Linked DNA regions of Homo sapiens. The protein of the gene in region 4 purifies or fractionates together with the protein of the main gene of each other region. This does not show direct contact. Each region holds a gene or a part of one and is shown on either strand. Other genes may lie near its edges. The genes, in order: IPO5, XPO5, SLC25A12, SLC35B4, WRNIP1, NPEPPS and LBR.

Evidence for each region.
Region 1: the proteins of SLC35B4 (region 4) and IPO5 purify together in Homo sapiens (affinity purification with mass spectrometry; one large-scale study listed by BioGRID and IntAct). This does not show direct contact.
Region 2: the proteins of SLC35B4 (region 4) and XPO5 purify together in Homo sapiens (affinity purification with mass spectrometry; one large-scale study listed by BioGRID and IntAct). This does not show direct contact.
Region 3: the proteins of SLC35B4 (region 4) and SLC25A12 purify together in Homo sapiens (affinity purification with mass spectrometry; one large-scale study listed by BioGRID and IntAct). This does not show direct contact.
Region 5: the proteins of SLC35B4 (region 4) and WRNIP1 purify together in Homo sapiens (affinity purification with mass spectrometry; one large-scale study listed by BioGRID and IntAct). This does not show direct contact.
Region 6: the proteins of SLC35B4 (region 4) and NPEPPS purify together in Homo sapiens (affinity purification with mass spectrometry; one large-scale study listed by BioGRID and IntAct). This does not show direct contact.
Region 7: the proteins of SLC35B4 (region 4) and LBR purify together in Homo sapiens (affinity purification with mass spectrometry; one large-scale study listed by BioGRID and IntAct). This does not show direct contact.

What each region holds. Positions count from the first base shown.
Region 1 is NC_000013.11:98,019,675-98,022,235, reverse strand, and holds part of IPO5 (importin-5), read right to left. Parts: coding exon 2,427-2,561; intron 1,245-2,426; coding exon 1,103-1,244; intron 501-1,102; coding exon 414-500; 3' UTR 1-413. UniProt on the Homo sapiens protein: Functions in nuclear protein import as nuclear transport receptor. Serves as receptor for nuclear localization signals (NLS) in cargo substrates.
Region 2 is NC_000006.12:43,569,539-43,573,038, forward strand, and holds part of XPO5 (exportin-5), read right to left. Parts: intron 3,041-3,500; coding exon 2,968-3,040; intron 1,457-2,967; coding exon 1,319-1,456; intron 1,147-1,318; coding exon 964-1,146; intron 1-963. UniProt on the Homo sapiens protein: Mediates the nuclear export of proteins bearing a double-stranded RNA binding domain (dsRBD) and double-stranded RNAs (cargos). XPO5 in the nucleus binds cooperatively to the RNA and to the GTPase Ran in its active GTP-bound form.
Region 3 is NC_000002.12:171,786,245-171,789,744, reverse strand, and holds part of SLC25A12 (electrogenic aspartate/glutamate antiporter SLC25A12, mitochondrial), read left to right. Parts: intron 1-1,797; coding exon 1,798-1,956; intron 1,957-2,083; coding exon 2,084-2,174; intron 2,175-3,500. UniProt on the Homo sapiens protein: Mitochondrial electrogenic aspartate/glutamate antiporter that favors efflux of aspartate and entry of glutamate and proton within the mitochondria as part of the malate-aspartate shuttle.
Region 4 is NC_000007.14:134,299,931-134,303,430, forward strand, and holds part of SLC35B4 (nucleotide sugar transporter SLC35B4), read right to left. Parts: intron 2,181-3,500; coding exon 2,099-2,180; intron 1,892-2,098; coding exon 1,831-1,891; intron 332-1,830; coding exon 222-331; intron 1-221. UniProt on the Homo sapiens protein: Antiporter that transports nucleotide sugars across the endoplasmic reticulum (ER) membrane in exchange for another nucleotide sugar.
Region 5 is NC_000006.12:2,784,923-2,787,452, forward strand, and holds the end of WRNIP1 (ATPase WRNIP1), read left to right. Parts: intron 1-84; coding exon 85-360; 3' UTR 361-2,030; downstream 2,031-2,530. UniProt on the Homo sapiens protein: Functions as a modulator of initiation or reinitiation events during DNA polymerase delta-mediated DNA synthesis. In the presence of ATP, stimulation of DNA polymerase delta-mediated DNA synthesis is decreased.
Region 6 is NC_000017.11:47,537,608-47,541,107, forward strand, and holds part of NPEPPS (puromycin-sensitive aminopeptidase), read left to right. Parts: intron 1-3,500. UniProt on the Homo sapiens protein: Aminopeptidase with broad substrate specificity for several peptides. Involved in proteolytic events essential for cell growth and viability. May act as regulator of neuropeptide activity.
Region 7 is NC_000001.11:225,421,539-225,425,038, reverse strand, and holds part of LBR (delta(14)-sterol reductase LBR), read left to right. Parts: intron 1-949; 5' UTR 950-963; coding exon 964-1,128; intron 1,129-2,761; coding exon 2,762-2,962; intron 2,963-3,500. UniProt on the Homo sapiens protein: Catalyzes the reduction of the C14-unsaturated bond of lanosterol, as part of the metabolic pathway leading to cholesterol biosynthesis.

The DNA.
Region 1 (2,561 bases), on a different chromosome or scaffold from region 4:
ACTCACACTCCCAATTCACAATGAACACTGAATGCAGAGCAATTTGTGTGAACACACATCTACGCTGAGTAACTGTTCTTAAAGCTGTTTTTCCTTAAATTTCCTTATGTCTAACGAGAAAAATTAATTTGATTTCCCTTTCCCCTTCAGGTGGGCGGGTTATACCAATAGAAAAATAGTCTTCAGTGCTAGCTACCGCAGGGCTTCCAGGAACTCCTTCAGTGGTCTGGTAGAAATCCATGGAAACTCCATTCTGCAACACAGCGCTGCTCTTCCTGCTTGTGGCTCTCCAGAAGAATGGCCTACACACAACACTACCGATCTCTTTTGCTCAAAAACAAAACAAAGAAACCTAAAGGAAAGGGTAAGCGTTTATTTGGAGTTAGTTTTCTGGTGGGTGACATTAAGGCCCTTCACGCAGAGTTCAGGAGCTCCTGAATGGCGGCCTGCTGCTCAGGACTGAGCTGTGCTATGCACTCAGTCCACAGTCCTCCAGAAGTCTAGGGAAAGAAACATTTTCACAGACTTAGGACGAAATGCTCATTTGGAAGGATTTTAATCATCATCATAGGTAAACTGTAATCATGGCAAAATACCTTCTCCCTAGGTACATTATTTTGATGAGTATCATTGTAAAAGCAAGAAATCTGTTCATTTTTTTAAAGTTCATTTCATTTCCAGTAAGTTTTCTTCATTTTTGCACTGAAAAAGCTACACTAAGCAGGTAACATCTTAAAGTAACCCATATACCACATGAATATAGGAAGTAAAAATCATATAAAGTTTTTTGGCAGATGACAAGTTATTATTAAATCTTGTTTTTTTTTCTTAAGATAGGCAGAAAAACTACACATAAGCTTGTGTTAAGCACCAACTGGTAAGCTCAAAATGTCCTAAGATGAAGGTTTTAATTCTAATAAATAATAAGTACATACGGATGGATTACATTAAGTATAATCCATTTGAGGCTTGGAGACAAGAGACTATGAAAATATAAAAATAAAATTCCTTAGCTCATTAGATTTCTAGTTTCTTCTCATAGAGGACTACAAAGAAAAAAAGGTTTTATCTCCCCCTCCCCAATTCAACCAAATCAGCTTACCTGTACTTGGCGAACGACATTGGCCAGACGTTTGGCACAAGGATCTTCATGTTTAATTGCCTCGTGCATTTCTCCTTCCGCAATTATACTAAATATTTTGGGCAGATTGGTATTGTTTGGGCCAAGAACAATTGGATGATTACTGACAAATGAGAAGAAAACCTTAGTAAGTGAAATTTATAAGGAGAAATATGATTATGTGTTCACTAAAATCAATGGCCTTTTAAATTCAGTAGGAAGAAAACCAGCCAATCTTATATATGAACTCTTTAGTTTCTTTCTACATAAATTAGAAAAAAAAAATACTGGGCTCATCTCTCAGGATTGTTTTAAGGGCCAAACAACAGAATGCTCTAAATACCTTATAAATAATTTGTGATGTGTTAAAAAAAATGTTTTGTATTATTAAAAATAAGTTTAACACAAGTTTTATTTTGCTACTACAAAATAGCTTCTAAAATAACTCTGAAGTTCAAAAAAATTATATAAACATTTCAAGAATAAACTGGGAAATAAACTCAGGCAAGTTTAATGGGAAAAAACCTGATAGCGAATTTAAGAATTCTAGTCTTTGTCACTAAGAGAATTTCAGAGTAGTCGTTTCCAAGGAAGATGATCAAATAGCATGATTAAGACCTGGTCATTTCAGATGTAGGAGCAGGTCAGGAGTATGTAGTCTGCAGGATGGCTGTTACATTCCTTAATGATATGGTCAGTGGAAGACTCAAACCCATTTCTTATGTGAACCTGAACTTAAACAAGTATGGAGAATATACCTGTTGGCCTATTGCTACAATAGTGGCAGTGGTTGTAGCCCTTGAATTTATTCATAACCTAAAAATAATAATAGCGACAGAGCTTAGATCTGACTGATATTTGGGGGGAACTTGGACTTAGAAAACAGACACTAAACAACATTCCCTTAGGCTGGGTTTGGTGGCTCATGCCTGTAATCCCAGCACTTTGGGAGGCTGAGGTGGGAGGATCTCTTGAGGCCAAGAGTTTGCGACCTGCCTGTGCAAAACAGTTAAGACCTTGTCGCTACCAAAAAAATTTAAAAACAAAGAAATAAATAATTAAAGTGCCTCATCTGTTGAATCTAATTTCATAAAGAATAACTCAAAATTAGACCTTATTATAAGGGCAATGTTAACTGTGATATGGTTTCTTAATATGATTTATAAAGACAGCACTATTATAAACCTATACAACTGAGGACTGTGCAGAGATCATGTGGTTAAACCTTAAAAGACTGATGTTAGGCAAGAAAAACCAGGAAGCACTGTGGAGGAGAAGGAAATAAGGTCACAGTCTGCTTTCCTACCTTTCAATCAGGTCACACAGATAATTGAAAGTCTGAACAGCTTCTTCTTTATCTTCATGTAGTGGAAGCCAAGACAACCAGTGTGGAAGGACCTCTTCAACGTTTACACAGTCAGGCTTGAACTTCATGATTTTC
Region 2 (3,500 bases), on a different chromosome or scaffold from region 4:
GCCTGACCAACATGGTGAAACACCATCTCTACTAAAATACAAAAATTAGACGGGCATGGTGGCAGGCACCGGTAATCTCAGCTACCCGGGAGGCTGAGGCAGGAGAATCGCTTGAACCCAGGAGGCGGAGGTTGCAGTGAGCCGAGATTGTGCCACTGCACTCCAGCATGGGTGACAGAGTGAGACTCCCTCTCCAAAAAAAAAAAAAAAATTAGTATTTTCCTAAAGAACTTCTGAAAATAAAATTAAGAATAACACCTAGGGCTGGGCTCGGTGGCTCACACCTATAATCTCAGCACTTTGGGAGAGCAAGGTGGGTAGACCACCTGAGGTCAGGAGTTTGAGACTAGCCTTGCTAACACAGCGAAACTCCATCTCTACTAAAAATACAAAAATTAGCCAGGTGTGGTGGCACATGCCTGTAATCCCAGGAGGTGGAGGCTGCAGTAAGCCGAGATCCCTATCTTTTTTTTTTTTTTTTTTTTTTTTTTTAAAAAAGGCCAGGTGCCGTGGCTCACACCTATAATCCCAGCACTTTGGGAGGCGGGCGGATCATGAGGTCAGGAGATCAAGACCTTCCTGGCTAACATAGTGAAACCCCGTCTCTACTAGAAATACAAAAAATCAGCCGGGCCTGGTGGCGGGCGCCTGTAGTCCCAGCTACTTGGGAGGTTGAGGCAGGAGAATCGCTTGAACCTGGGAGGCAGAGGTTGCAGTGAGCCGGGATCACACCACTGCACTCCAGCCTAGGTGACAGAGCGAGCCTCCGTCTCAAAAAAAAAAAAAAAAAAAAAAGAAAGAAAATGAGCTCCAGTTTTTCTGTCATTTCCTAGTTTTTTATTTTTTTGCTTATAAAATAGGATTTCATTTTGCTGACCTAGACACCCTAGTTCCTTACTGTAAGATTAATCAAAAACACTCATATTGGAAAATAGAAATGTTATAGGTAGGGGTATCCCTTACCACTTGCTGATACTTGTTTACATTTTCTTGAAGTGTGTTAAGCAGAAAACTGAAGATCCTTTCCATGTTCTGGGTTAATGTTTGCTGGATGTCCCTTCTTCTTTGAGGGGGAAGTGTCTGAAAAGTCACTACATCCTCTGCCAGTCGCAAAAGGATAAACATCACCAATTCTGTCTGTGTTTCCTACACCAATAGAAATAAGCTAGTTAAAAACTAAAATATCTTTTCATTTTATGTATATCCAAAGGCTATTTTCTGTTGCCAAAAAAAAAAACCCACAAACAAAATCAAACAACAAACCCTGAAGTTTGTTCCAAGGAAAAGTATACCAAACTGATATAGCTGTGTTTCATACCCCTTGTTTGGAAAGAGTGTCCAATTCTATTAGCATGTCAGGCCAATGCTGTGGCCACTCTCGCTTGATCATTTCCACTACAATTCGAGACAGAGCATCTTTAATATGGTTCTCCTCTTCCAAAATGTTCAATGTTCCCTGAAAAAGAACAAGAGATATTAAGAGATATGCAAGACTGGATTCCAGACTTCCAGAAAAAAGCTGGGCTGTAGAGTTGTAAAAAATTTATCAGCAGGCCTACTTTTAAACCAAACAGAACAAATGAACCTGTTCTTCAGCCTGAGTCACTTGTCCTGCATTCTTGCTAATCACTCTTCCGCTTAAAGCTTAAGTGAGGGTTGCATCACCTAAAAGGCTGTCATATCGAGAGCTAGGATGACATCATTATTCTTTACAAAATGAAAAGATTCTCATATTGATTGTTTCAGTTTGCAGAAGGCCAGGGAGGAAGAGTATAGAAATAAGGAGTATAGTGAGTAGCTGGTAAAATGGAAGGGTATGAAGGGGCAAATGAATATTTTACCAATAGTTCTAACACTAGAAGACGCAGAAGTATTAGAAGATCCCATCTCTCATGTCTGTTATTTAAAAAAAACCAAGAAAGAAAAAAGGCTACAATTTTGAACATGTTTAAAGTCATATTCTGTTTTGTGTTTAAAGAGACAGTCATCCAGTCATCACACCTGTAATCTCAGCATTTTGGAAAGCCAAGGTGGGAGGATTGCTTGAGGCCAGGGGTTTGAGACCAGACTAGCCTGGGAAACACAGTGAGACCCTGTCTCTCTAAAAACCAAAAACAAAATTAGCTGGGCATGGTACCACATGCCTATAATCCCAGCTACTTGGGAGGCTAAGGCGAGAAGATCACTTGAGCCCAGGAGTTCGAGGCTGCAGTGAGCTATGATCATGCTAATGCAATCCAGCCGGAGCAACAGAGACTCTGTCTCAAAAAAAAAAAAAAGTCATATTCTAATACTTGAAACAAATTCATTCTGCATACTTAAAATTCTGCATGTTTTTCATCATTAGTATCACATAGTAGTTGTTTGGAATAAAAGAAAATAGTGTTTCAATCTAATTTAGATCTAAGAATCTTATTGATTTGTTGAAAATATTTAATCCCCTCTGCCCTGTCTTTATAATTTAAAAAATAGAAGTCAATACATAAGCATGATTAATTAAACCTAGTAAGAGACATATGCTGAATTATGCTTTCTGCTTTTGTTTTGTTTTGTTTTTGAGATAGGGTCTTGCTCTGTTGCACAGGCTGGAGTGCCATGGCACCATCACAGCTCACTGCAGCCTGGACCTCCTGGGCTCAGAAAATCCTCCCACCTCAGCCTCCTGAGTAGCTGGGCCACAGGCATGCGCCACCACGCTCAGCTAATTTTTGCATTTTTGGTAGAGATGGGGTCTCACTGCATTGCCCAAGCTGCTCTCGAATTCTTAGATGCAGGTGATCCTCTTACCTTGGCTTCCCAAAGCGCTAGAATTACAGGTGTGAGTCACTGTGCCTGGCCTAAATTATGATTTCTTGTGCTGTCTGACCTATTTAGAAGCAGTGAATTTTTACACAAACTCCCTATTGAAGAAGTCACGCTTTGCCTAAACTACCTTGGAAACATGTCTCCCAACCACCCATTCCTTACATTTGCAATCAGCTCCATGACACTGTTCTTCAGATACACCTTCTCCAATCGAGACATGCCGTTCCACCGAAACCTGACCACCAAAATGCATAAAGTCAATAGAACCACTTTAGAAGTCTTGTCTTTACAAGAGAATAGCATGGATTTCTACATTTGATTACACTGGAGATTTCATTAAGAAATTATACTTTTGATTTTGTACCTGTCAATGAATGGGCAAAAATGATCTACATTTAACCAAAATACTAACACAAAAATTCTTGGGAAAAGGTTTTATATATGCAGTGGTCCATTAACTGGAATCCGCACAAGATTTGTACCACACGTCAGCTTTGCCTCATGATTTTATTGATGGGCCAAAAGTGAATATACATCTAGGTCAACTGCAACAATGTACTTGCTTTTCAGAAAATGCAGTTTTGACATCAGTCATTTTCTGTGCTGGCTTACAAAACAATTCTGGAAAAACTATGGCTAAGTCTTAAAGGCTACCTCTTCTGATAGGTGTTGAGGGTAGGACAATCAAGTTAGGA
Region 3 (3,500 bases), on a different chromosome or scaffold from region 4:
TTTTTGTATTTTTAGTAAAGACAGGGTTTCACCATGTTGGCCAGCACAGCTGGTCAGAGCCACACTGAGCTCTGTAATGGTTCATTACTGGTTGTATAGAGAGCAAACATGCACCCCTTCCTTCCTTTGTCTTTTCGGAGTGTTGGTGCAGCCAAGGACACCTGGTTCTCTCCTCCTTTTCCAAATCAGCTCCTTCCTAACTCAAGAGTCAGGCTGAGGCCGAGCTTGGTGGCTCATTCCTGTAATCCCAGCACTTTGGGAGGCCAAGGCGGGCAGATCACGAGGTCAGGAGATCGAGACCATCCTGGCTAACACGGTGAAACCCCGTCTCTACTAAAAATACAAAAAATTAGCCGGGCGTGGTGGCGGGCTTCTGTAGTCCCAGCTACTGGGGAGGCTGAGGCAGGAGAATGGCATGAACCTGGGAGGCGGAGCTTGCAGTGAGCCGAGATTGTGCCACTGCACTCCAGCCTGGGCGACAGAGTGAGACTGTCTCAAAAAAAAAAGAGAGTCAGGCTGTAAATGTGAGGTCTCAAACTCCTGACCTCAGGTGATCCTCCCATCTTGGCCTTCCAAAGTGCTGGGATTACAAGCGTGAACCACCACACTTGGCCCAGTCTCCTACTTTTAAATGGGGGCAGCATTTGCCTTCCAGGCTTTTCCTTGTGCTTTCCAATCAACAATGAAAAACAGCCAGAGAAGAAGAGTCTAATTGTGGACAGGTGTTTGCAAGTGGTTGAACCAAGTAAATATTTCCATGGAACTGTCAGCACCGACTTCTTCCCCATAGACATTTGATGTCAGTTTTCAGAATGAGATTATTTTTTCTAATTTTTACCAGTCAAGCTTTGCTAGCAGGAACTGAGAACATTCAGAAGTCTGCCTCCAAAGGCAGGAAGTTTACCTAGTTTCATCTGAATAGGGTGCAAGGCCATGCCAAGGGGAAGTATTTGCATTATTCCCTAGCAGAACCTCGTACAAGGCTGCCAACTCCATCCGCCTAGTGAGGATACAGTGATATTCAGGCCAAATTGAATTTCTTCCCCCGGGGAAGATTATTTTGCTCCTTTGCTCTCTGTTTTGTTTTATAAGTAAAAGGTGTGGTTGTGAAATCCATCTTTTGTGTCCTGCTGCTGATCAATCTCAACATGACCCCAGGGAGCTCGGGCACAGGGGCCTTTCCCTGACCAGCTCCCCTGTTGTTTCTTAACTGGCTGCCTGGCCACCTCTTGCTCCAGTTGTAATGACTTTTGTCATGTAAGCATGTCTGAAAGGAGTCACAGTCAACTCTCAAGGTAGCCCTTCAAACAAGCGAGTGATTATAAGTATTGATATTCACTTCCCACACTACGACAAGAATCAGCAAAAACAGTAGTTTGGTGTCAGATACATTTAGTGACTCACTAAGATGACATTATCATTTTTTTATACATAAAAATACTTGTATCTTATTTAAGAAAAAAAGGAGGTAAAATAATTGAAACTGAAAGGGAACGCTTGGGAATTGTCTTATTAATATTGCTACTTTTTTTTTCTCTCTCACAGTTATTTGGGATCATGCAATGTAGAGTGATTTTTTTTTTAATTCAGGAAAAAATAATAATAATTTTCCCCTGATCACACTGCAACAGCTAATAGGCTTCTATGCCCTTTTCCCATTAATGGCCAGACATCTATGTAAAGAGTTTTGAGTTCCGCTCAAGTGGTTGAAGTTGCAGGCTCTATAGTAGATGTTAGCAGTATTCCTATCTTTTATAAGGTACTCTAGATAAATTAAATGTGGTTTTCTCCTGAAAGGTGTCCCAGCTGCATCTCTGGTGACCCCTGCTGATGTCATCAAGACAAGACTGCAGGTGGCTGCCCGCGCTGGCCAGACGACATACAGTGGTGTCATCGACTGTTTCAGGAAGATTCTCCGGGAAGAAGGGCCCTCAGCATTTTGGAAAGGGACTGCAGGTAGGCAGGGGCTGGAGCCATACAGAATGGCTGGCTGGCTCTAGCGTCCTCCCCTGTGACTCAGTGGCTATCTTTACCACATTTGTCCTGGTTTCAAGTCTCCCCTGCCCCTGCTTCTCTTTTTCAGCTCGAGTGTTTCGATCCTCTCCCCAGTTTGGTGTTACCTTGGTCACTTATGAACTTCTCCAGCGGTGGTTTTACATTGATTTTGGAGGCCTGTAAGTCAGCTGCTCAACTCCTTTACAAAGAAATCACTAAGTCCAAAACAAATGTTTGTTCTGTCTACAAAAGCATTGTTGCAACTCTTAGAAAACTGATAAGACAGAACCTTTAAGACCAATGCATTTAAAACAGTGAGCTTAAGAAGCATTTGTGTTAAGCAAGTAAAACTTGACAGAGTGACATCGTACATAATATTAAGCAGCTATTTGGGGGATTTTAGGGAAGCAGCAAATTTTTTTAAAAAAGACAGGATATCCTCTGTTGCCCAGGCTGGAGTGCAGTGGCATGTTCTTGGCTCACCGTAGCCTCAACCTCCCGGGCTCAAGCGATCCTCCCACCTCAGCCTCCTGAGTAGCTGGGACCACAGAGGCATGCCACCACACCCAGCTAATTTTTGTACTTTTTTATAGAGATGGGATCTCACTGTGTTGCCCAGGCTGGTCTCGAACTCCACCAGCCTTGGCCTCCCAAAGTGCTGGGATTACAGACATGAGCTACCGTGCCTAGCCAGGAGGCAGCAGATTAAAATGCTGTGTAAATAATTGTCTTTTTTCACATAAGCAAATACTGAACTTCATGGCGTTCTCATTATGTGGATTTTATTATATGGCCCTTTCACAGAAGTAATGTAAATGTATACCAGTAACACTTTTGTGCATTTTCTTTCAAAGTCCCAAGCCCTTTTGCATCTCTGATATTTCATTATTCACCACAATTTATTATTAGTTAGGTGCAGATGTTCTTGAAGCTAATTTACTGGAAAAACCAATAGGTTTGAAGAGAGATTTTGCCCATGGATATAATCACTAGTGAGCTGTAGGCCAGAAATTGGGCTTCTAAAAGCTTACCACTTGAAGCTTGCACTGAGAAGAAGAATTACAAGTTGAATTTTCTGGGTGGGGAAGTTGTACCCAAAGCAAGCAATTATTAGCTTTTCAGCAGAAGACCAAGTACCATTCCTGAGTCCTCACATCAGAAACCTGTGAACTCCTCTGTGCCCAAAGGCCATATAGGGAATCAGCTGCTGAACCAAGTGGAGGGACCTATGCAAAAAAAGTGAGAACAGCAGTCTTACAGTTGCATTGTAGAAATGTGAGGCTTCAGGCTTTTCCATGCTTCTTTCATCTTCTGTAAAAGAACTAAAGCTATTTCTCTCTCTCTCTTTTTTTTTTTTTTTTTTTTTTAGACGGAGTCTTGCTCTGTCGCCCAGGCTGGAGTGCAGTGGTACGATCTCGGCTCACTGCAACCTCCACCTCCCAGGTTCAAGTGATTCTCCTGCCTCAGCCTCCTGAGAAGCTGGGACTAAGGGCGCCCACCACCGC
Region 4 (3,500 bases):
ACACAATTTAATTTGCTTTGATTGATCGTGATCATCTCATGTAGTGAACTGTGACTTGGAACCCACCAGAGCATCCCATCAAAACTGCTTCAGTCTGTGGGTCTCAAAGCCATCTACCAATAATACACCTTCAACTACATCAGAGAATATTAATAGTTCACTTGAAGTAACATTTTACAACTTAGGAATTTTCACGTTCCCAGGTTCAGGAAGTTGCTTACATTATAAAACAAAGCCTCCTTGGAGTGTTTCCCAAATCGTTTGTAGAGAGTCTCTTGGAATATCCCCATCCTTGCTGACATCAGAAGAGCAAAAGTCAATGCCCCAATACCTAAAAAACAAACATCAGGTGACAAGATGTCTGCATTTGTTCATTTCCAGATGTTTTTCTTGAAGAACATTATTGTTTAAAGTCCTGCAAATATTATGAACTAATTGTAGAACATGTACAAAACTGTAAAAAGAAATAAAAATACATTATTACCATCTAGTCCTTTACAGCTTTCTACATCTTCTTATATATTCATTTATGTAAATTTTTTTACACTAAGACAGGATCAGATTGCATATGGAATTTTATATCTTGCTTTTTTCATGAGCTTTTGCCTGGAATTTTGCTTCAAATCAGTCATTAAAATTTTTTAAATAGAATGCTTTTAATGACTATGATATGGATGTAGCACACTTAAATGTATGAGGATGGTTATTTCCAATTATTTCATTATTAAAATCAATGTACATCCTTGTATACAAATCTTTAAACAAATGTTGATATATTTTAGGATAAACCCTCATAAGTGGAATTACTGAGTCAAAGGCTGTGGACATTTAAAAAATACAATACACAATATTTTTCCATAAATGCTGTGTCCATTTATACCCAAACTATTTTTATTATATAAAAATAGTTGTTTTACTGTACCCTCAGCAGCAATGAGATAACCATTTATCATCTTGCCAGTATGATAGGCCAACATAAAAAGGTATTGCATGGGTTTCATTTGCATTTCTCTGATTACTAGACTAGTGAGGCTGAACCTAAAATTGTTGGGTGCTACTATTTCCCCCATGAACTATATGTTCATATCCTTTGCAAATTTTTCTTCTGGAGTATTTTTCTAATAGCACATAAGGATCTTTCTATGTTACAAACAGCAACAAGGGATAAAGTCTCAAAGCCAAGAAGCAAGGAGAACACAGTTCTTTCACTGCTATTTCTCTTCCAATTGGTCAGTCTCAATCCGTTATTGTTGTCATTGAAAGCCCTTGGAACGAGTCTCAGCTCCATATCAAAAAATGTGAGAACAAAGCTCTACAGGAGCTGCCTATTTAATTCCACAGAGATCCTTGTATTTTTAAAAATTCCCCAGGAGATTCTGATAATCAGTCAGGTTTGGGAACACTGCCATATGGAACAGCTAACCTCTGAAGAAAATAAGTCTTTAGAAATGAGTCCCTCGGAAATTTAAAGAGTCAATTGCTCTAACGTGCCCTCTTGCAGAAGCTTCAACTTGGCAGACAGATCGTGAAGAGACGGATGACATTCAAAGGATGTGATGTGCAAGTAGACACACACTTTTCTTTCTACACCAGTGGCAACCAAGAAAAACATGGATCCATGTTGTAGAACATACTGCCATGAATGTGGGGGCATTTTCTTTTTTTCATTTCTTGAACGCTAAGGCTCAGAGAAATATGATCCCAGGTGCCTCTCTTCCATGGCATAATTTGTTTAGCTGAAGCTTCTTGCCAAGAAACATTTCTCTTAGGAGAAAACTCAGCAAACACAACTGCAGAGGCAATTAGCTTTATTATAATTATTGTACTTGCCTAGTAACCACCACACAAATGCCTGGAATCCATCATTCTCACTCAAGCTGGACTGGGAAGTCTAGGAAATAAGAAAATAAACTAGGTACAGAGAGCAGAACTACGTGCAAGGTGCCGACATACAAGGGAAACATTTATGTTACCCATTTCCCTCCCCTCTTCTCTTTCAAAATCTTTGTATTACATAAAAATTTGAATTGTATTAATTGCCTGGTAACTGGGCCCCAATAGCAAGTAGTGAACATAAAATAATTTGTGAGCTTCTTACCACCTGCTTTGCTGACATAAAAGTGCAAATAAATATCCCCACAGACACCAGGGCAATGGAGGTATATTTGAATATACTGTATCTGCAAAAAAGAAAAAAAAGAAGAAAAACACCTTAGGAAAGCACAGATATGAATTTCCCAGTGATATTTACAGTCAGATGGTGCATGAAAGTACAAATCACTAAAGTATGACAGACAGGATTACTTTCCAGCAGAGTCCACAGAAGTATGCATATGAATGAATCAGGATACTGACTAGTTTCTAACCAACACTTTTCCTTAGTACTGTTTAGTCTGTCTCCAACAATTTGCTGACCAATCGATTATTTCATCAGGAGACAAAAACAGAAATAGACCAGATGTGATGTTGCATTCTGCTCTCAAGAGTCCAGATGAAAGGCTGACCCAGTCCTTACTAGGATCTGTTGCTTTTCCTGTCTTTAGGGGGACCAAATCTGTGTCCTAAGACACACTGTGCGAGTGGAAAAACAGGCTATCAGGTGCAAGCAGCAGGATTCAATGCTCAGAAAATAATCCAATCATCCATTCTCTGGGGGAGGCTTGTTTTTTTTAAATCTCTGAATGACTTAACATTGTTTTAAAATGTTGGCATAGTTGGATAAGGGGGAGGATATTCAGATTATAGAACTATGGGCTGTAATAACAGTAGCATTTCACATTAGCTAGTATCATTAGCACCCTCTCAGATTTTTGGTGATCAAGCAAAAGGCCTCAGGCAAGGATTAAAAGAAATTAAGAAGATGAACCATCCCAGGTTTTCTACTCAAATACATAGTATTGTCCTGGTCACAGTACCTCATAAAAGGCCAGCAGAACTAGCTAATGGGCAGAGAAAGGGACTAAAAGGGCCAAGAGGACCACGCTAGAGAGCGGTTGGGGAGGAAGCAGGTACGAGCGGAGGTACGGTAAAAAATAATGAACCTCTTCAGTCTGCAAAGATCACGCTGAAGAGGTTTACAACTGAGGCCAAAAATAATAATAAAGGCATGGGTAAGGTGAATATAAATTTGATATTCAAATCCTGGAATGAGGAGCACACTATGAACTTGAGGGGCTTCTACCCAAGATAAAAGGAGATAAGAAGTTACTAATTTACTCTGTTGGAAAGTTAACTTATGGAAATTCCTGCTCAATGGGAAAGAGATACACACAGAAAAGAGAGTCAAAAGGCTTAGATAGATGCAAGATGACACACTCAGAACAAGTTCTTAAGGGCAACAGATGCTTGAGAAAGACCCGTAACATTTTGGGGCACTATCAGGAGAATACAATTTCTCTTATAACATGTTCTTTTGTATCCTTGTCATGAGCCAGAATCAAAGGTTGGGAAAGAGCACAGGCCTGTCCCAAGGCGAATTCCACACTATAAGAAGCATGATG
Region 5 (2,530 bases), on a different chromosome or scaffold from region 4:
CCTAGAGCTGTGTATCAGAAGGGGCTCTGCAGAACAGAAGCTTGGCATCTTGCTAGTAAAATGTGTCCTCTGTGTCATTGGTAGGTGCTTCTGGCCCAGTGTGTGGTCTACTTTGCCAGAGCCCCAAAGTCCATTGAGGTGTACAGCGCCTACAACAACGTCAAAGCCTGCCTGAGGAACCACCAGGGGCCACTGCCCCCCGTGCCCCTGCACCTGAGGAACGCGCCCACTAGGCTGATGAAGGATTTGGGCTATGGCAAAGGCTACAAGTACAACCCCATGTACAGCGAGCCTGTGGATCAGGAGTACCTGCCTGAAGAGTTGAGGGGGGTAGATTTCTTCAAGCAGAGGAGGTGCTGACTCCTCAGGGCACGACAGCAGAAGGATGTTGCTTTTTTAAGGGAGGGCCAGAAAGAAAGTTAGTGGATTGCAAAGTTGGTTGCCTGGTGGAAGTTAGAACAGACCAACATTTTGTGCCAGAAATTTAAGAGTTCCATAGGTGGAGGCGCAGTTCTTTCGAATAAATGTGTAACTTTGAAATTGTGTTCATTTGCACTCGGTGCAGCGGTTATGCTTATGAAAATACCTGGCAGCTTTGTGCAATGAATTAATGTTATAAGGAATTATCTATTTTGTCATAGTATTTAAGTCATAATGTCATTTCAGAATTCAGTTCTGTAGGATTTTCTTTTCTTTAAAAAATGTATATTCTGGGTAGTTTTAATTGGTAAAAAAATGTAATTGTGATTTAATACTGCATAGTGTTTTGGGTATTTTTTTTATATGCAAAGGTCTTACGAGCCAATAAAACTATTTCAAAGTACTCTTCGATTCTGTCATGGTTTTCCTGCCTGGATGCTAGGTACCAGCGTTGTCACCATTGCATTTGGTGGGTGGATACTGGGAAGGAGAAATCACCCCAGATGGGAAGAGTGGGGAGCTTAAGTTAAGAAGTCAGTGTTATCTTGTTGAAAGTTAACTCTGATCTCTTTAAAGGAATACATAAAGGAATTCTTTAAATGGCTTGTGGAAGACTCCAGTAGTCCCATGCCCATTTTTTCCCACTTGTCCTGGTTTCTTCTTGCAGCTCCATATTTCTAAACAGTCGTTTTTCTTTTACTTTATGTGTGTCCTGAACACAAAATACGCCACTCCTTCTGCTCAGTTAAGAGTTATTTGTCCCTACTGCTACTTCCTCTCCCTCTCCTTAGTTGCATGTCGTGCATATGCCCACAAGGATGGCCCCTTCAGGTAGTCGGTTCTCCTCCTGCTGTTGCGTGATCCCTCCTGGGGTCCTCCTGCCATGTCTGGAAGGCTGCCGGCTGTTGGCCTGGGACGTCCTCTGCCTTTATTCTGAGTGAGATGCCCATTTTCTGGATGCTCCATCCCGCCTTACTGGTTTATTCCGCTATTTCAGTGCAACCCATCCTCTAGTAGTTTTATCAGGCTGGAGGGACTGTATGTTGCAGAGGCTTGGCCCGACTGGCCTCCCTCCTTCTGTCTGGAGTGGTTGCACTGCAGTGTGCAGTTGCCATCCCCAGAATCTCCCTTCATCATCACCCTGGAGCTTTCCTCTGCTTCTCCCTGCACCCCATCTGATGACAGGACTGACTGCTTTCTGGCACAGGTGGCATGTACCCTCTAGTAGCTTTATGGAGCAGGGGTGTGTGGAGGAAAAGTATTTTTAGACCTCAGGAGACTCAAAATGCTTTTATTGTACCTTCAGACGTGTCTGAGGGTTTGGCTAGTAATAAATTGTAGGTAAGAAATTACTTGTGCATTGTTTTACACTTTCCCACATTGTTGTCAAGTTTGAAGGCATCCTGATGTGTGTGGTCTTTTGTTTGTAACCTCTATCAACTTGTAGACTCTTCTGTCTTTGCTCCCCGTGTTTTAAAAGTCTGCACTGGGTACTTGTTGGGCCTTTCAATCTGGAAACTCCTTTCAGTTCTAGGGAAGTTTCTTTTTTTATTCAATAAATTTATTTATTTATGAGACCAACTCTTGCTCTTTTTCCCAGGCTGGAGGGCAATGATGCGATCTCGGCTCACTGCAACCTCCACCTCCCAGGTTCAAGCGATTCTCCTGCCTCAGCCTCCCAAGTAGTTGGGATTACAGGCGCACACCACCACACAAGGCTAATTTTTGTATTTTTAGTAGAGACGGGGGTTTCACCATGTTGGTCAGGCTGGTCTCGAACTCCTGACCTCGGGTGATCCACCCACCTCAGCCTCCCAAAGTGCTGGGATGACAGGCGTGAGCCACCGCGCCCGGCCTCAATAAATATTGAGTGCCTGTTTTATGCTGAGCATTCTTGTTGATGTTAAAACACATCAGTGAGCAGAAGAGACCAAAAATTCTGTGTTCTTAAAGCCTATGGTATGAAAAATAATATGTTAATATGCCAAATAGTGATAAGTGCTATGCTAAGGAGAAAATGAATGAAAGATTGAATATGGAAAGGGGAGGTATGGGTGCAGTTTTAGTAGAGTAGCCAAGGTGGATCTCACCAAGAAAGTGTTTGAGTCAA
Region 6 (3,500 bases), on a different chromosome or scaffold from region 4:
GCTTGAACTCGGGAAGCGGAGGAGCGGAGGTTGCGGTGAGCTGAGATCACGCCATTGCACTCCAGCCGGGGTGACACAGCGAGACCCTGTCTTTAAAAAAAAAAAAAAAGTTGACTAATCTGAATGGAAATATTTCTAAAATACATTATCTTTTTATGCTTTGCAATTCCTCATAGTGTAGGTTTGTTTCATTGTTTTTTTTAAATACTGAACTTTATTTTGAACATCTCTCATTGACCCCAAACTATGTACTATAATTTATCAGTTTCATATCTGTTTTTTTTTTTCTTTTTTTTTTCTTTTTGAGACGGAGTTTCGCTCTGTTGCCCAGGCTGGAGTGCAGTGGCACAATCTCGGCTCACTGCAACCTCCGCCTCCCAGGTTCAGGCAGTTCTCCTGCTTCAGCCTCCCTAGTAGCTGGGATTACAGGCATGCACCACCACGCCTGGCTAATTTTGTATTTTTAGTAGAGACAGGGTTTCACCATGTTGGCCAGGCTGGTCTTGAACTCCTGACCTCAGGTGATCTGCCTGCCTCCGCCTGCCAAAGTGCTGGGATTACAAGTGTGAGCCACCGCGCCTAGCCATATCTGTTCTTTTTTTTTTTTTTTTTTTTTTTGAGACAGAGTCTCACTCTGTTGCCTAGGCCAGGCTGGAGTGTGCAGTGGTGCGATCTCGGCTCACTGCAACCTCCACTTCCCTAGTTCAAGGGATTCTTCTGCCTCAGCCTCCCTAGTAGCTAGGATTACAGGTGCATGCCACCACACCTGGCTAATTTTTGTATTTTTCTAGAGACCAGGTTTCGCCATGTTAGCTAGGCTGGTCTCAAACACCCGACCTCAGGTGATCCGCCTGCCTCTGCCTCCTAAAGTGCTGGGATTACAGGCATGAACCACCGCGCCTAGTCCATATCTGTTTTCTTTTTTTTTTTTTTTTTTTTGGAGACAGAGTCTTGCTCTGTCGCCAAGGCCGGAGTGCAGTGGCGTGATCTCAGCTCACTGCAACCTCCGCCTCCCGGGTTTAAGCGATTCTCCTGCCTCATCCTCCCAAGTAGCTGGGACTACAGGCACCTGCCATCATGCCAGGCTAATTTTTGAATTTTTAGTAGAGAAGGGGTTTCACCATATTGGCCAGGCTGGTCTCGAACTCCTGACCTTGTGATCCACCCGCCTCGGCCTCCCAAAGTGCTGGGATTACAGGCCTGAGCCACCGCACCCGGCCAGCCTGTATCTGTTCTTTAAAGTTGTTTTGTTTTCCTTACTCTCATGTTCTTCTTGCTGCTTATTGTGCCTTGTTGCTGCCTGTTGTGCAATTTCTTCCCTCTTGTATTTTACTGAACTTCATCTGAAGAAGCCTTAGTAGCCAGATAAACAAGCTTGTTTGGGCTAAAAAATCAATTGCTGTGTGAGAGTTTGTTGGATTCTCTTCTGAGTAAAGGGTATGCGTTTTATTGTACGGACTTTGTATCACCTATTTTGGCTTTTCATCTAGGCCTTTTTTTTTTTTTTTTCTTTTTTCTTTTTAGCCTCCTGGTTCTAGATACAACTGATACTCTGATACAACCTGGGTAAATGTGGTCTTGAGTAGTAAATTATCTGTGAAGCTTCTCCGAACTTTGCCACATAAATGAGCCTGCTCTTATTGTGAAGTAAATCTTACTCTAATCTGTATGTGAGTCAGTGGGAAATATCTGAGCCTTCGGATGGCTTTTGTTAACTGAGATTAGTTCTCTAGATTTTAGTGATTTCGTTTTGAACACCATACAAGTATGTGGTCCTTGGTTTATTTGGTCACTTGTAATCTCTTTAAAATTTTATTTTAAATTAGGAAATATTTTAGAAATACAAGAAAGTCACACACTATGAGATTAAACAGATGTTAACGTTTTGCCCCATTTTCATCAGACTGTGCATGCTTTTTTTGGGGGGGGAATAAAATGTCACAGATATCACTAAAGCCCATTTCCATCTCGTCCCACCCTGCCTCTAGAAGTAACTTCTTTCTTCAGGTAGGTGCGTATTATTCCTTTTTATTCCTATGTATAGTTTAAAACTTTAATTGCATATTAGTAGCCACAAACATCACATACCAATATTCTGTGCCTTTTGCATTTTTACATTAATGGTAATTATTTTTGACCTTCTGCAAGTGGCTCTTTTCAATGTTTCTTGTTAGAAAACTTGGCTCAACTTGAGTTTACTAATTATCTGCTTCTTCTTGTCTTTAGCTATTATAGAACTGTTCCACCAAGGCAACAATTATTGCTATTTTAATGGTGAAATCAGTTTTATTAGGCAAATTGACTCAGGCTTCAGACTGGCATTTGGAATTGTCACACTGGAGATTTTCTTTTACTGAAATCTCAGGACATTGACAATCAGAAAAAAACCCTCTTGAGTCTTACTATCTTACATGTAAGATATGTTCCTGAGTGACTGTAGTAAAGACTCATTCAGGAAAATGTTATCTCCGATTTCTGCCTCCCTATCTCATAGGAAACTTCCATTGTAAAGTTGTTACCAGGCGTCAAGCTGCCTCTTTGGTACAGCCCTTACTTAGTATTTGGCTCAGTTGAAGTGCAGTCTATATAGGAGGCCAAGAAGACTTAATCCTGGGTTTGAAACAAAGCAAGGATACACTAACATTCTATCCTTTAATAACATCAAGTAGAAAAATTGAAAATGAGCTTGTTATCAGTGCACTTTTATATGCCAACCTTGTTTCACTTGTGTTTTAAACTGGGAAACTGAAGATTTTAATGCTGAAATTTCTTTGAATTATTACCTGTTTTTTTGATAGTGGAACACACAGCTAATATTTACTAACATGAAGGTGTCAAAGGTGGGAAATCATGTACTACACCATCAGGTCAGCACTACTGTTTGGAAGAGCAGCATCACAATGAGCAGTGTTATACTGCGTTGTAGTCAGCACATACACTTATGTCCAAACAGATATTTTAAATTACCTTCTTGGGGTAGTACACATGTGCTGATATCCAAAGTGCCATATAATACAATACATAGTTTTTAAACTTCATATCATTCTGATCAGAAGCTTTATAAACTGTTAGGTGAATGCTGTTAGATGATATGAGAGCACAATTTAACCTGTGTGTGTGTATGTGTATGTCTTAACATCTATTAAGTGATGACTACATATGAAGCACTAAGTGCTAAAACAGAGACTTTACATAGATTATCCCATTATTGGTCAACTTTTTAAATAAGTGCATCTCTAATATAAGACAAGATGCTGACCAATTTTTAAAATGTGAATGGATTTCTATTTTTAAGATAAGTACCTTTGTTCCTTTGGTTCCTCCCTCCCACCCTTCCAGAAATGGTAGTATCCTGGAAAAAAAAAATTAGTAACAATTCAAGAAACAGCTTAATTCATTAGTATAAATAGATGAGTTTCCCTTAAACACAGGAGGAGTTGGAAGGTACTTGTAATTGGATGTTGTGCATGGTGCCTTTCCAAAATGCACAAATACTTTCT
Region 7 (3,500 bases), on a different chromosome or scaffold from region 4:
GGAGACAGCTCATATCTGTCCTACTGGCTGCCCCTTGGACGTGGCCCCAGCTAGTTCATGTGGTACTGGGGAAGGTCGGCAGCCCTGGTTTTGTTGTGTGGAAATGTGATTCCGCTGGTCAGCCGATGGAGCGGCATTACTGTCTGGCAGCTGGAAGTACCCAGCTATCAATTGATATTTCAAAAAGGGTGGCAGACAGGCCTCACGTAAGTGGCAGTTCTTGCAGATTGCTTGTGGATTCCTAGAGTATTGTGGGGCTTGTGGGCCATGTTTTGAATCAGAGGAAAAGAATGTTATAATTGGGGGTTGATGGCTGCTGTAGGCTTGAGAGAAGTGAGCTTGGATGAAGGCAACCACCCTGGCTTAGGTGGGTGGTTGGCAGAGTTACTTGGTATGCATTTGTACTTTAGCTGTAAGAGTTGAAAGCTAAATAACCCCCAAATTTATTCATTACAGACTTGGAATTATTTTTCTTCCTATTGTTGGGTTATAGTCATGTTAATTGTACATCCTTGATTTTCCCAGTCTGGTTTATAGTTTGCTGTTTTTAATAAAGGCAATTTGTTAAAAATACAATTAAATGCATTTTTAAAGCCATTGTAAATTGATACGCAAATTTACAAATGAGAAAATGTGTTCTTTGTGAGATTGTGCCTCATTTTTTGATTAGCGAGAACTGTGATCACGGTAGGTGGGTAACATTTTACATAGTGTGAACTTATGGCGCCTATATACATTGTTATAATTAATCTTTAGTGTCACATAGATAACGCAGTGGCTAAATCATCCTCTCAAATGATTCCAAATGAGATTGAATGTAGCCTTTCTGGCCCTAAAATCCTGACCAGTCAATTCTGGAAAGTTGTATTTTAGTGATCAGCCTGTGGAAAAAGACGAATACATAAATGTGTATGTATTGACTCAAATTTTTTTCTTTAAAACTATTCAGGTTAATTATAGAAAATGCCAAGTAGGAAATTTGCCGATGGTGAAGTGGTAAGAGGTCGATGGCCTGGGAGTTCACTTTATTATGAAGTAGAAATTCTGAGCCACGACAGCACCTCCCAGCTTTACACTGTGAAGTATAAAGATGGAACAGAGCTTGAATTGAAAGAGAATGATATTAAGGTAAGAGCTCCTTTGGTTTATCAGAGTGTGTTTACAGTAAGTGGGAAATAACTCTAAGTATGGTTTCTAAGCTCAGGATAGTCAGTTCAGCTCGGTTTGAAGGCAGAGGATTGAGCTCTTGCTTTGGGTCACATACTGTTTTTGGCTCTGGGAATGTATGAATGAGGCATAGTCCTTGTTCCCAAGAAGCTCACACTTACTGGGAAAGACAGCCATTTGCATCTGTTGGTCCCCTGGGTTTACTACGTTCTGTGTCTGGAGTTTGCTGTGGGTGGTGTTGAGTGTATCAAGGGTAGAGAAGAGCCCTGGGCTTCAGGGGAGGCTTTCAGAGGCAGTGACACCTAGCCAAGTGCTGAGAACAAACAGGAAAAACAGCAGTTGATGGGGCTGTTTCTGCAGAGAGGGCAGTATGCCAAAGTCAGGGGTCTGGGGGACACAGTCAGCCAAGTGCTGGAAGGGGGTGGTAGGGGAGGGCTAAGCAGGAGCCAGGCTGGGGGGGCTTTTATATTCCATGCCCAAGGGTTTGGGCTTCATCCTGAACACCAAGGATTTAATCAGGAGAGTGACATTAATTAGATTCGAGTCTAGCCCAGGGCTTTTCAACCTGTCTGGTGAGGGCCTGGGTTTTAAGATATCTGATCCGTAGTATACAAACATTTATATAAAATGCCATAAAAATGAGTTACTAGAAAAATAAAGACATACACAATAGACGACTCACAGTTTTACTATCAGATTCGATAGATATGAGATTACTTTGTCAAAATGCTATAAACATTTCCATACACCTATTTCTCAATTTTGGTACTTGCACAGATTAGTAACGAGCATTTCTAGGACCCATGGCTGAGGATGACACTTCGAGTGCTCTAGACCAGGAATAAAGCACAGAAAGTAAATATTTTAGACTTTATGGGAGCGGCTCCAGGCAGTATGGAAGGGAGCAGACATGGCAGTGTTCCAGTACAACTTTATGGACAGTGAAATTTGAATTTTGGATAATTTTCACACTTCAGGAAATACTGTTCTTTTGATTTTGTTTGTAATCATTTAAGAATGTAAAAGCCATTCTTAGTAGGAAGGCCACACAAAAATTGGGGTGAGGGACTTGGCCTGGGGCGTAATTTGTCTACATCCCTAGAAGCAACATAAGGAGATTCGGAGTAGGTGGGGACACAGTGAAACAGTTCCCAGTCATCCAAGCTCATGTTTTATTTTCAAGATCTGCTTATGTGTTTTGTTCAGAGTGAAACTGTGGTACTGTTTTTTTTTTTTTGGTCTGTGTGCTTATTTATTTTGTCCTGTCGTCTCAGTTTTAATCCATGTTAATTATTACCCTTCTTGCATATGGTGTTGGAAATAAGTACAGCTAATTGGTTTAGATACATTCGTTTCATGGAAATACCTTCAAAGAACAGGAATGGAAAGGCTGCATTTGTCTCATGAAAGATGGATCATTATGAAAGCATTTTCCATTGGCTTCATCTGATCCATTCTCAGATCCTAACATTTCCCGTGCTGATTTTAGAGTTAATGGTAGCAGTTCCTGCCTTTGTTATCCTCTTCTAGTGTGGGTCTGTCTGTATGTGTTATGATTTGTGGTAAAGCTCTTTGCCTTCTTCCCCCTTTCTAGCCTTTAACTTCCTTTAGGCAAAGGAAAGGTGGCTCAACTTCCAGTTCCCCTTCCAGACGCCGAGGGAGTCGATCAAGGTCACGCTCCCGATCCCCTGGTCGACCACCTAAAAGTGCCCGCCGATCTGCTTCTGCTTCCCACCAGGCCGACATTAAGGAAGCAAGGAGGGAAGTGGAAGTTAAATTGACTCCGCTGATTCTGGTACTTGTGTTTATCCTTATACAGCCTTTTGTCTTCCGCTTTATGTATATATTTACTCAAGTTACTTGCAGTTAATAATATTAAAATGTCACTGAAACATCAAATCTAAGTTGATGACTTTGGGAGTTTTCATATAAAACAAATGTTTGGAATAGAAAGTTTTAAATATCAATGGAAAAGAATGTCCTTCAGTTACCAGAAATGCTATTTAATATTTTAGTTTTTAAAAAAGCAGCGTTCAAATTTGAAATAGATGTAGCTTGTAGATTGAACTGCGTAAGGTTTTTACAGTGTATAAAAGTTCATATCATGTATGAAATGGTAAGACAAACCTGTATTACGGAAACATTCTTACTCTTAGCATCATTATACTTTATCACTTTACCTATTCAAAGATGATTTTAGTGGAATTACTTTCAAGATGTAAGCTTTGAAATATCAGGGTGCATGGAGCCTGTAGATCTTGTACAAATAGTATTTTAGATAGTAGACCAAAGACAAAGTATGTTAAGTAAAAAGAATAAAAGTAATCTTCTAT